Linked DNA regions of Homo sapiens: all the other regions are linked to region 3. Evidence: fine-mapped expression QTL. A gene starts in region 3. Each other region holds a variant in brackets. All regions are shown on one strand. Distances are between the middles of the regions.

Region 1 (2,644 bases), 36 kb before region 3:
CCTATTAGTCAGCAAAAGCTGTTTGGACTAGCAGTCTGTCCCACACTTAAAAGCAATATATATTTATTCATAGCTAACTACATGCCAGACATTGTGGTAAGCAGTAGAGACACTGTAGCTAATAAAAAGCAATATCTGCAACTCTTTTTGTCTCGTGGGGAATTGAGAGACAAGAAATTACAACAGAGTGGGCTAGATGCTATTAAAGAATAAACCAAGGAATTTTCTCCCGGACTTCAGTGAGCCAGCAAAGACCTCCCTGAGAAAGTGTTCCTTGCCCAGATCTTTCCACCTGATAGTCTCTTTCCTGGCTTGCCCCCATCTCTGCCTCCTTACTCTACTTCCTGAGTCACCAGCCCATCAGCACTGAGCAAAGAGATACAAAACAGAGTTAATGTGGCACAGGTGGGAGGGAGAAAGGCCCTGAGGGAAGCAGGTAGAACAGCCACATAAAGAGCCCCACAGGCACTGATTAAAGCGAAGAGAAGCTGCCAACACACAGTGCTCGAGATCTTTCCCAGTCAAGCCTTCTGCTGGTGATTTCTTCCTCATTCATTTATCCATTCAACATGTATTAAGCTTCTTAGGTGGGCTGGATCCCACCTAAGTCAATCTACTTGTCCTGCCTCCTCCAATGTCAGAGATGCTTCTTCCTCAGATGGCTGCTACTCTGAGTTGAGTGCCATTTTCTCCCTCTATGTCACCTCCACTCGCTCTGGCATGCCAGGAATGAGACTCTAGTGGGACCCACTTTTGTACCGTGAAGAAGGAAAGGAAACGGAGAAGAAAAGTCCCGTTTCGTACTGCCATCTCTCTCTCTGTTGCTTCCCAGCCCCAACTTCAACTCTCCAGCTGGTGTTCAGCATCAAGTTCAGAACGTAAGCACCCTGCACCCCAAAAACCCAGCAAGTTTTCCCTTGCCACACCAAGCTCCCAGATTCACTCCAGATTCCATCTGCCTCCCACTACGGTTTCTCCCTTTCTTTATACTCTGCCTCCTCTCTTCCTGGATGGTTGGTGCTGAGAATGGGCAATTGCTCAGAGCTGGGCAAACCTTAATATCACTGTACCCACCAGGCCTATACAGCTGAAGAAGCTGAGGTCCAGAGATCTTGCCCAAGGATACACAGGCAGGGACAGGACAGCCGGAAGCCTGATTCCCCACCCTGCCCCCAGCACTGGCTTTCTCCTCATATAGAGACTGAGACTGACTCTATTTGGACCCTGAGGAAGAAAAGTATTCATCTCCACTCCACCCTCTGCTGACATCCAATTAGAAGGCTCTCTCAGGCTATCTATACCAACCACTGCAGCAGGCAGCCTCTTCCTCACTACCCCTTCCTCCCACTACAATACATATAGACTTTTAGGAGCAAAGGATTCTCCTATCTTAGCTAGAATTGCGACCTTAATTATCCATCCAAACCCCCCTAACCAAAAGTTATAAACCTGTGATCCTCCCAGCCCTGCACTACTCCTACACGTATGCCATGGATGGGTTTGTGCCACTGTGAGACCCCCAAAATCTCTCCCCTTATCTTCCCTGTCAGGAGTCATGCCCCCATGAGCCC[T/C]CAAGTTGTGCCCACCACAGAATGGCAGAAACTCTACAACTCAATTCCACCTTCCTACACCCAAACTTCTTCATACTGACTGGCTTTCCAGGGCTAGGAAGTGCCCAGACTTGGCTGACACTGGTCTTTGGGCCCATTTATCTGCTGGCCCTGCTGGGCAATGGAGCACTGCCGGCAGTGGTGTGGATAGACTCCACACTGCACCAGCCCATGTTTCTACTGTTGGCCATCCTGGCAGCCACAGACCTGGGCTTAGCCACATCTATAGCCCCAGGGTTGCTGGCTGTGCTGTGGCTTGGGCCCCGATCTGTGCCATATGCTGTGTGCCTGGTCCAGATGTTCTTTGTACATGCACTGACTGCCATGGAATCAGGTGTGCTTTTGGCCATGGCCTGTGATCGTGCTGCGGCAATAGGGCGTCCACTGCACTACCCTGTCCTGGTCACCAAAGCCTGTGTGGGTTATGCAGCCTTGGCCCTGGCACTGAAAGCTGTGGCTATTGTTGTACCTTTCCCACTGCTGGTGGCAAAGTTTGAGCACTTCCAAGCCAAGACCATAGGCCATACCTATTGTGCACACATGGCAGTGGTAGAACTGGTGGTGGGTAACACACAGGCCACCAACTTATATGGTCTGGCACTTTCACTGGCCATCTCAGGTATGGATATTCTGGGTATCACTGGCTCCTATGGACTCATTGCCCATGCTGTGCTGCAGCTACCTACCCGGGAGGCCCATGCCAAGGCCTTTGGTACATGTAGTTCTCACATCTGTGTCATTCTGGCCTTCTACATACCTGGTCTCTTCTCCTACCTCACACACCGCTTTGGTCATCACACTGTCCCAAAGCCTGTGCACATCCTTCTCTCCAACATCTACTTGCTGCTGCCACCTGCCCTCAACCCCCTCATCTATGGGGCCCGCACCAAGCAGATCAGAGACCGACTCCTGGAAACCTTCACATTCAGAAAAAGCCCGTTGTAATGTCCAGTGGTAACAATGGAGCCTAAGAGTGGAGGTGAGGGGACAATCGGAGGGGAGTCTGGGGGTGTGGATCATGTTATTTTCATCCC
Region 2 (2,826 bases), 24 kb before region 3:
AAAAAAAAAAAAAAAAAAAAAATTAGCTTTCAGAAACACCTATCTGATCCTGTTCCTCCTACCCAGAGGCCTTCAGGCGGCTTCCCACTGCCTTCAGGACAAAATTCACTTGACATACACACAAGCCTTTCATAATCTAGTTCCTGTGTGCCTTTCCCTCCTCATACCATACATACCAGCAATATAAAATTATGTGTTCCTAAATGTGCCCCCCTTGATTTGTAAATTCAAGTTTTTTCACCGACTCTTATGCCTGAATTGACCATTCTCCTACCTAGATAATTGCTTCAAAACTCAAGTATCACCATCTAGAAACCTTCCTTGATCCTCTTTCCATGAAAGGTAAAGACTGTTCAATCACTTCCTGTCTCCTTCACACCTTGCTCTCTATTAATATTTTACATAGCAGACTGTTTACATTTTTGTGTTCTCCAGTAGACTAAACTATATTAGGACAAAGACAAAGTCTCATTCTTTTATGTTTTCCCAGTACTTAGATAGTTTGACACGTAAACATTCAAGGTTTTGCTGCCGGAGAGCTGGGAGGTAAGCAGAAAGCATAAATCTGAACACATTATAGAGATGTAACTGAACGTGAACCTGGGGGTCAATTTAAAGTAGGCAACCAGTTAACTTCTGACCCTAAGTCCCTGACCTATAAACTGGCCACCTGCAGGTCATCGAGGAGCACTTTGGGCCCAATGCAGTAGCAGTACCTTTCCTGTCAGATGCAGCCTGCTATGACCTACTGGGTGTGCTGGTAAAACAGTCCCGCCCAGCCCATACCCGCCTGGCTTTGCCAGGTCGGCAGGGCCGGAGGGCACTGAAACCAGTGGGGCCACTACCAAGCCTCCTGGAGCAGGCAGGATCTGAGGGTGCCTTCGCCCACTGCACTCGGGAATACTCACCAAATGGCCGAGCAGAGAGAGCCTATGAAGAGACGCGAATGTTGGATGGACAGCCCTGCAAGATCCGCCTACATATGGGTGACCTGCGCAAGAAGGTTGCCTTCCTGTTGCTGCCACCAGGGCAGGTGAGCCTACAGCAGACTCTTCCCTGGCTCCGAAGCACCCACAGCATCTATGTCATCTACCAGGTCTTCTCTTGTTCCTGGCTGCAGCTGGGGCTGACGTCTACAGCCCGTGAGCCCCAGCTCCTCCGGCTACTTCGGTCATTACCTGTTGCCTTCTCCTGCCTCAAGTTTTCACTGCAGTCTAAGGGCGTGCTGGGACCACAGAAGCCTCTCACTAAAGACCCATTGCCCCATGGGGCCAACTGGGTCAGACCCAACCTCAGCATCATGCCGCCTCTGGCCCCCACATCAGCACCTGCTGATACAACTGAAGCTGCTGATGTGCCCCCACCTGTCCCAGCCCCACCTACGCCACCTCCCCAGGAAGGGCCAGAGGACAAACCCACCAGATTCTCCTACAAGGGCCGAAACCCCTTCTGGAGGGGGCCCCAGATACTGTCAGGTACTACTAGGGGAAATGATGATGAGATGGATGGGAGGGACAAAGTGAAGGAGGGAGAAGGCATGAGAATTAAGTATGTGAGGAATCCATTACTCAGCACAGGGCTCTGGTGAAAGAGATGGAATGAGGGAGACTGGGGAGGGTGAGATGGAATGAGGAGGCCCTAGGAAGGGGATTGGGATGGCACAGAGGACCAGAGGGAAAAGCT[A/AG]GGGGGGGAAAAGACCAGCCATGAGTCAAGCTGTGACTATCCCCAACCCTGGCAGAGAACTGGCTCTTCAGCCCCCGCAGCCCTCCACCAGGAGCCCAGGGTGGGGGCCCCAGGGACCCCGACGGGCACTCCATGTCCCTGCCCCTGCTGCAGGGTCTATCCTCAGAGTTCGACAGTGACGACTGAAGCTGAAGCAAAAGATTCCGGGGGCAAAGCCCCCAAGATCTGGCATAGGGGTACTGGTCTCTAATAAACATCAGCTGCTGCTCCCCCAAACCATCCTGGGCCCATGCTGCTTATTCCTTCTGGGATCCAGAGAAGAGGGAAGAGTCCCTTCACCCTCTAAGGGCATAAGGGGTACCTTGAAACCTTGGCAGCAATGTCCTTACCAAAGAGAAAATACTTCTGACCACCTCCCCGACTATGTACAACCTTTTCTGGGGCCCCAGCCCCACAGAAAAAAATGGGAAAGAAAAATGAGCACAGAATAGAGATTTCCCTTTTATACATATTGCAACAAGTTCTCCATAAAACATTCATCTGAAATAAATTAAAAAGTCCTTTTGCCACTGCCTCCAAACATAAAAAGGAGCCTGTGCCCTAGCCCCAGCCCGGGCCACCCATGGCCCTGATTGTCCATGGAAGAAAGTTAAGGATTGAGGGGCCCACAGCCTGAGATGAGAGGGCCAGATCCTTCCTCTGAAGTCTCCAACAAGAAAGGCGAGGTGACGGCATGAGCCTGGGAGATGGCAGCCAACTCCTTGAGAAATTCAGGGAAAATGACTGCACAGTAGACAGCATTCTTGACTCGAAGAGCCTCACCTTGGCGTTCAGGGGCCCCGCCCCGGGTGAGTAGAACTGGAGTTGAAGCCCCAGGGGAGCCCCCACTTAGGCCAAGTCCTGCTCCGTCTCGCCCAGGCTGAAGGACCAATTGTGCCGCCTGCCGGGCCCTGGTTGGACTGTGTGCATGCCGCAGGAGTAACTCCCCCAAGGATGGCCTCCGGCTCTTCACTGGGAATAAACAGGGGTATCATGAAGGTGCTGGGATCAGGGAACCTCCCTTGGACTGAGAGGGGAGATTCCCCCACCCCCTAGGTTCTTGGACTTCTCCTTTAGGGTTCTGAGGAAATGGAAAAAAGGACA
Region 3 (2,669 bases):
CACAGGATATAGGAGTTGGCTCTGAAGCTAAGACTCTGGAAAAGAATGGGGACTGAGGCTGTCTAATTCTCAGGAAATGGTCTCTCCCTGTCCACTGTAGAGTTAAGGAAAGACTTAACTCTTTCTGAGTCTGGAAAGAATAGGATGTCCCAACCCCATGGCTGACTAGCAGTAGAGAGGAAAATTTAGTAGTGTGAAAGTGGCCATTATCACTGAATGCCAAACCAACTTTCCAGAATTTCACGTGCATTTGGGTTGGTGGGGAGAAGAGGACCTAAAAGAATGCTAGTAAGATGAACCCAACTACAGGGTGTGGAGAGGAAGAGATAAATTTTCAGGTGGCTAAAATGTTCAGTATCTTGAGACTGATGATGATTTCACAGATGTGTACACATGTCAAAACTCATCAAACACACATTTTAAATATAATATAAACTAGCTTTTTAAAAAATTCAACTGTAAGAAAGGAGAGTAAGGCCATCCTGTTTGGGATCCTAAATATAGTACTGTATAGGGCAAACCATATGACCTCCATAAAAGTAGAATTAGCAACTGAATATGGTCAATCCAATCAAAGACCCACAGTTAAGCACAGGTAAGGAGCAACAGTGGAATAAGGTTGTCCAGAAGCAAGTAGAGAGAAAACACAAGCTGTCACAGCGCAAAACCCTTCATGAGAGGGCCCATCTTCAACTATGCAGTCCAGAGAAGGAACTCGAAGGAACTGAAGTTTCTGTGATTACTCTGTTGAAGTCTGAGCCTCAAATATGACTTTCATTACCATAGTACTATTGCCTATGACACCTTCATTTTCTCGTCCTCCAGAATATGGAAAGTCCATGGGAGCAGAGGAGTCAGGTGCACAACACTTCCATCTAAGCTGCCCTACTTTGTCTAAAACTATTGCTCTCACTGGACAGGGCAGTCCATCGAAGGAGGCCTCAGAACCAACCTCTCACCTTTATCCAAGTCTCACAAGCCCTAATTCCCTCCTCCCATGCCTCGCCTTCAACTCCCTCACCAATTTGCCGCCACCCCGCAGGCTCCCACCTGCGCCTTTTACTCTCTCTCTCCTCGCGCAGGCCTTACCCCTCACTCTAGTCCCAGGGTATCCTTCACACCAGCCCTCAGTAGCCCCAGCCCTAGTAAACCGCGTTCAGGAGTCCCTTCAACTTGGCACCTCCGAAAGCACCCAGCCTCTCACAGCCCCTCATTTGTCCACTCACCTGTAAGCTCTCACCCTCCTTCCCTATCTTAGACACTCACACCCGGACCCTCACCACCTGCCAACCCCTCACAACCAGTACAGTAACCAAACCCGTCACCGTCTTTTCCCAGTCTCTCATCCCCACAAACGACTCTCCAGGCCCTCTGGCCCATGCGTACCGTTCACTCACGGAACGCCGAACCTGGCCGGGCCCGGTTGCTGCTGCGGTGTTAGGTGAGTTCAGGCCGCCGCCATCGCTTCTCAAGCGCACCAGCCGCGCCCCGCCCCGCGCCACACGCAGCCCGCGCCCCCGCGCACCACACGCAACCGCCCGGCGTCGCACGACTGGGCAATGGCGTGCCAGCTCATTGGCTGAGCCGGACCAAACCCGAGCAAGGACGCTTGTTTCCTGGCAACGGCTAAACGCAAGGGCGGGGTCGCCGACGGCTATCCGAGGGAGGAGCACCGCCTCTCCTCTTGGTTCCGTCCCTTCGTACGTAAACCCCGCCCCTCAGAAGGACTCCGGCGTGTCATAGGCGAAGGCCTCTGGGAAGGTGGAGGCCGGCAGGGCGGAGGCGGAGCCCGGGAAGGAAAGGTGGAACCAGAGGGCAGAAGGCGGGACCTAAGGAGAGGCGATTTTTACAGGCAGGGAAAGATCAGAAGGGCGGGGCTTGGGAGAGATGGAGCCGGAAGAAAGACGAGCGAGAAAGGGGTGGGGCCATGGATTCCAGGAGACGCTTGGAGTGGAAGAGTGGGTGTGGAGGGGCGAGGCTATCACGAAAAGAGAGGAGGAATCAGTAGGTGGGCCGGGCCTGCGGAAAAGTGGAGCCCTAGAGAGGGCTGACTGCGGGCACTCTAGTTCATTTTGCTCCATCGTCGTGCATAGCTTGGTCTCTACTTTAGTACCCCAGCGGTGACTGCCCCTGGCTCCCCCAACACCGCTGTGCTGTGCTGCTCCGTCACCCCTTGAGCACTTAGTCAAGGAACACGGAATAAGTGCCTGCATGCCCAGCTGGATTCCGGATCAATTAGAACCGGCCTCTGCTCTCCAGGACCTCAGAGAATTGCAGCGTAGTGTAATAAGTACATTACTACGGGGGCCACCTAGGAGCAGCACTTAGCATGATTTGCATGTATAGAGGATGAGAGGAAGGTACGGTGAAGGAGCTTAGGGAAGACTTCCGGGAGGTGACGGTGTCTAAGCCGAGTCTTGGGAAACAAGCAAGAGTAAGATAAACTAAAATAGAAAAATAGAAGTTTCAGATAAGGCATGTAGTTTTAAAAGTACTTTACCGGCTGGGCGCGGTGGCTCACGCCTGTAATCCCAGCACTTTGAGAGGCCGAGGCGGGCGGATCACGAGGTCAAGAGTTCGAGACCAGCCTGACCAACATAGTGAAACCCCGTCCCTACTACAAATACAAAAATTAACTGGGCGTAGTGGCGCGCGCCTGTAATCCCAGC

Which allele goes with the higher level. Alleles are on the strand shown, and positions count from the first base shown. SD is a standard deviation of normalised expression in the study named. Not every link is listed here.
With allele AG in place of A in region 2, the expression in prefrontal cortex of the gene that starts at base 1,479 in region 3 is higher (moderate effect, 0.48 SD a copy in BrainSeq).

What was found. PIP is the estimated chance that this variant, and not a neighbour inherited with it, causes the effect.
Region 1: its variant is the best candidate, but not a certain one, in a credible set for the expression of FHIP1B in whole blood (TOPMed, PIP 0.61).
Region 2: its variant is the best candidate, but not a certain one, in a credible set for the expression of FHIP1B in prefrontal cortex (BrainSeq, PIP 0.69).

What each region holds. Positions count from the first base shown.
Region 1 is chr11:6,197,632-6,200,275 of GRCh38, forward strand. OR52W1 (olfactory receptor family 52 subfamily W member 1) reads left to right here and starts at 1,593. Exons shown (of 1, transcript NM_001005178.1): 1 at 1,593-2,555. The coding sequence starts at 1,593. The coding sequence ends at 2,555. RefSeq lists enhancers at 1,407-1,907, 1,908-2,408. The variant T/C (reference allele first, on the strand shown) is at 1,572.
Region 2 is chr11:6,209,174-6,211,999 of GRCh38, forward strand. It overlaps C11orf42 (chromosome 11 open reading frame 42), which reads left to right. Exons shown (of 3, transcript NM_173525.3): 2 at 677-1,475; 3 at 1,739-1,962. The coding sequence ends at 1,869. FHIP1B (FHF complex subunit HOOK interacting protein 1B) reads right to left here. Exons shown (of 12, transcript NM_001098794.2): 12 at 2,172-2,694. The coding sequence ends at 2,333. Among named protein-coding and RNA genes, the nearest start is that of C11orf42, 5.0 kb to the left of the region's middle. The variant A/AG (reference allele first, on the strand shown) is at 1,684.
Region 3 is chr11:6,233,158-6,235,826 of GRCh38, forward strand. It overlaps FHIP1B (FHF complex subunit HOOK interacting protein 1B), which reads right to left and starts at 1,479. Exons shown (of 12, transcript NM_001098794.2): 1 at 1,387-1,479. It also overlaps a transcript of CNGA4 not described here. RefSeq lists silencers at 1,154-1,203, 1,384-1,683 and enhancers at 1,726-2,416, 1,814-1,893.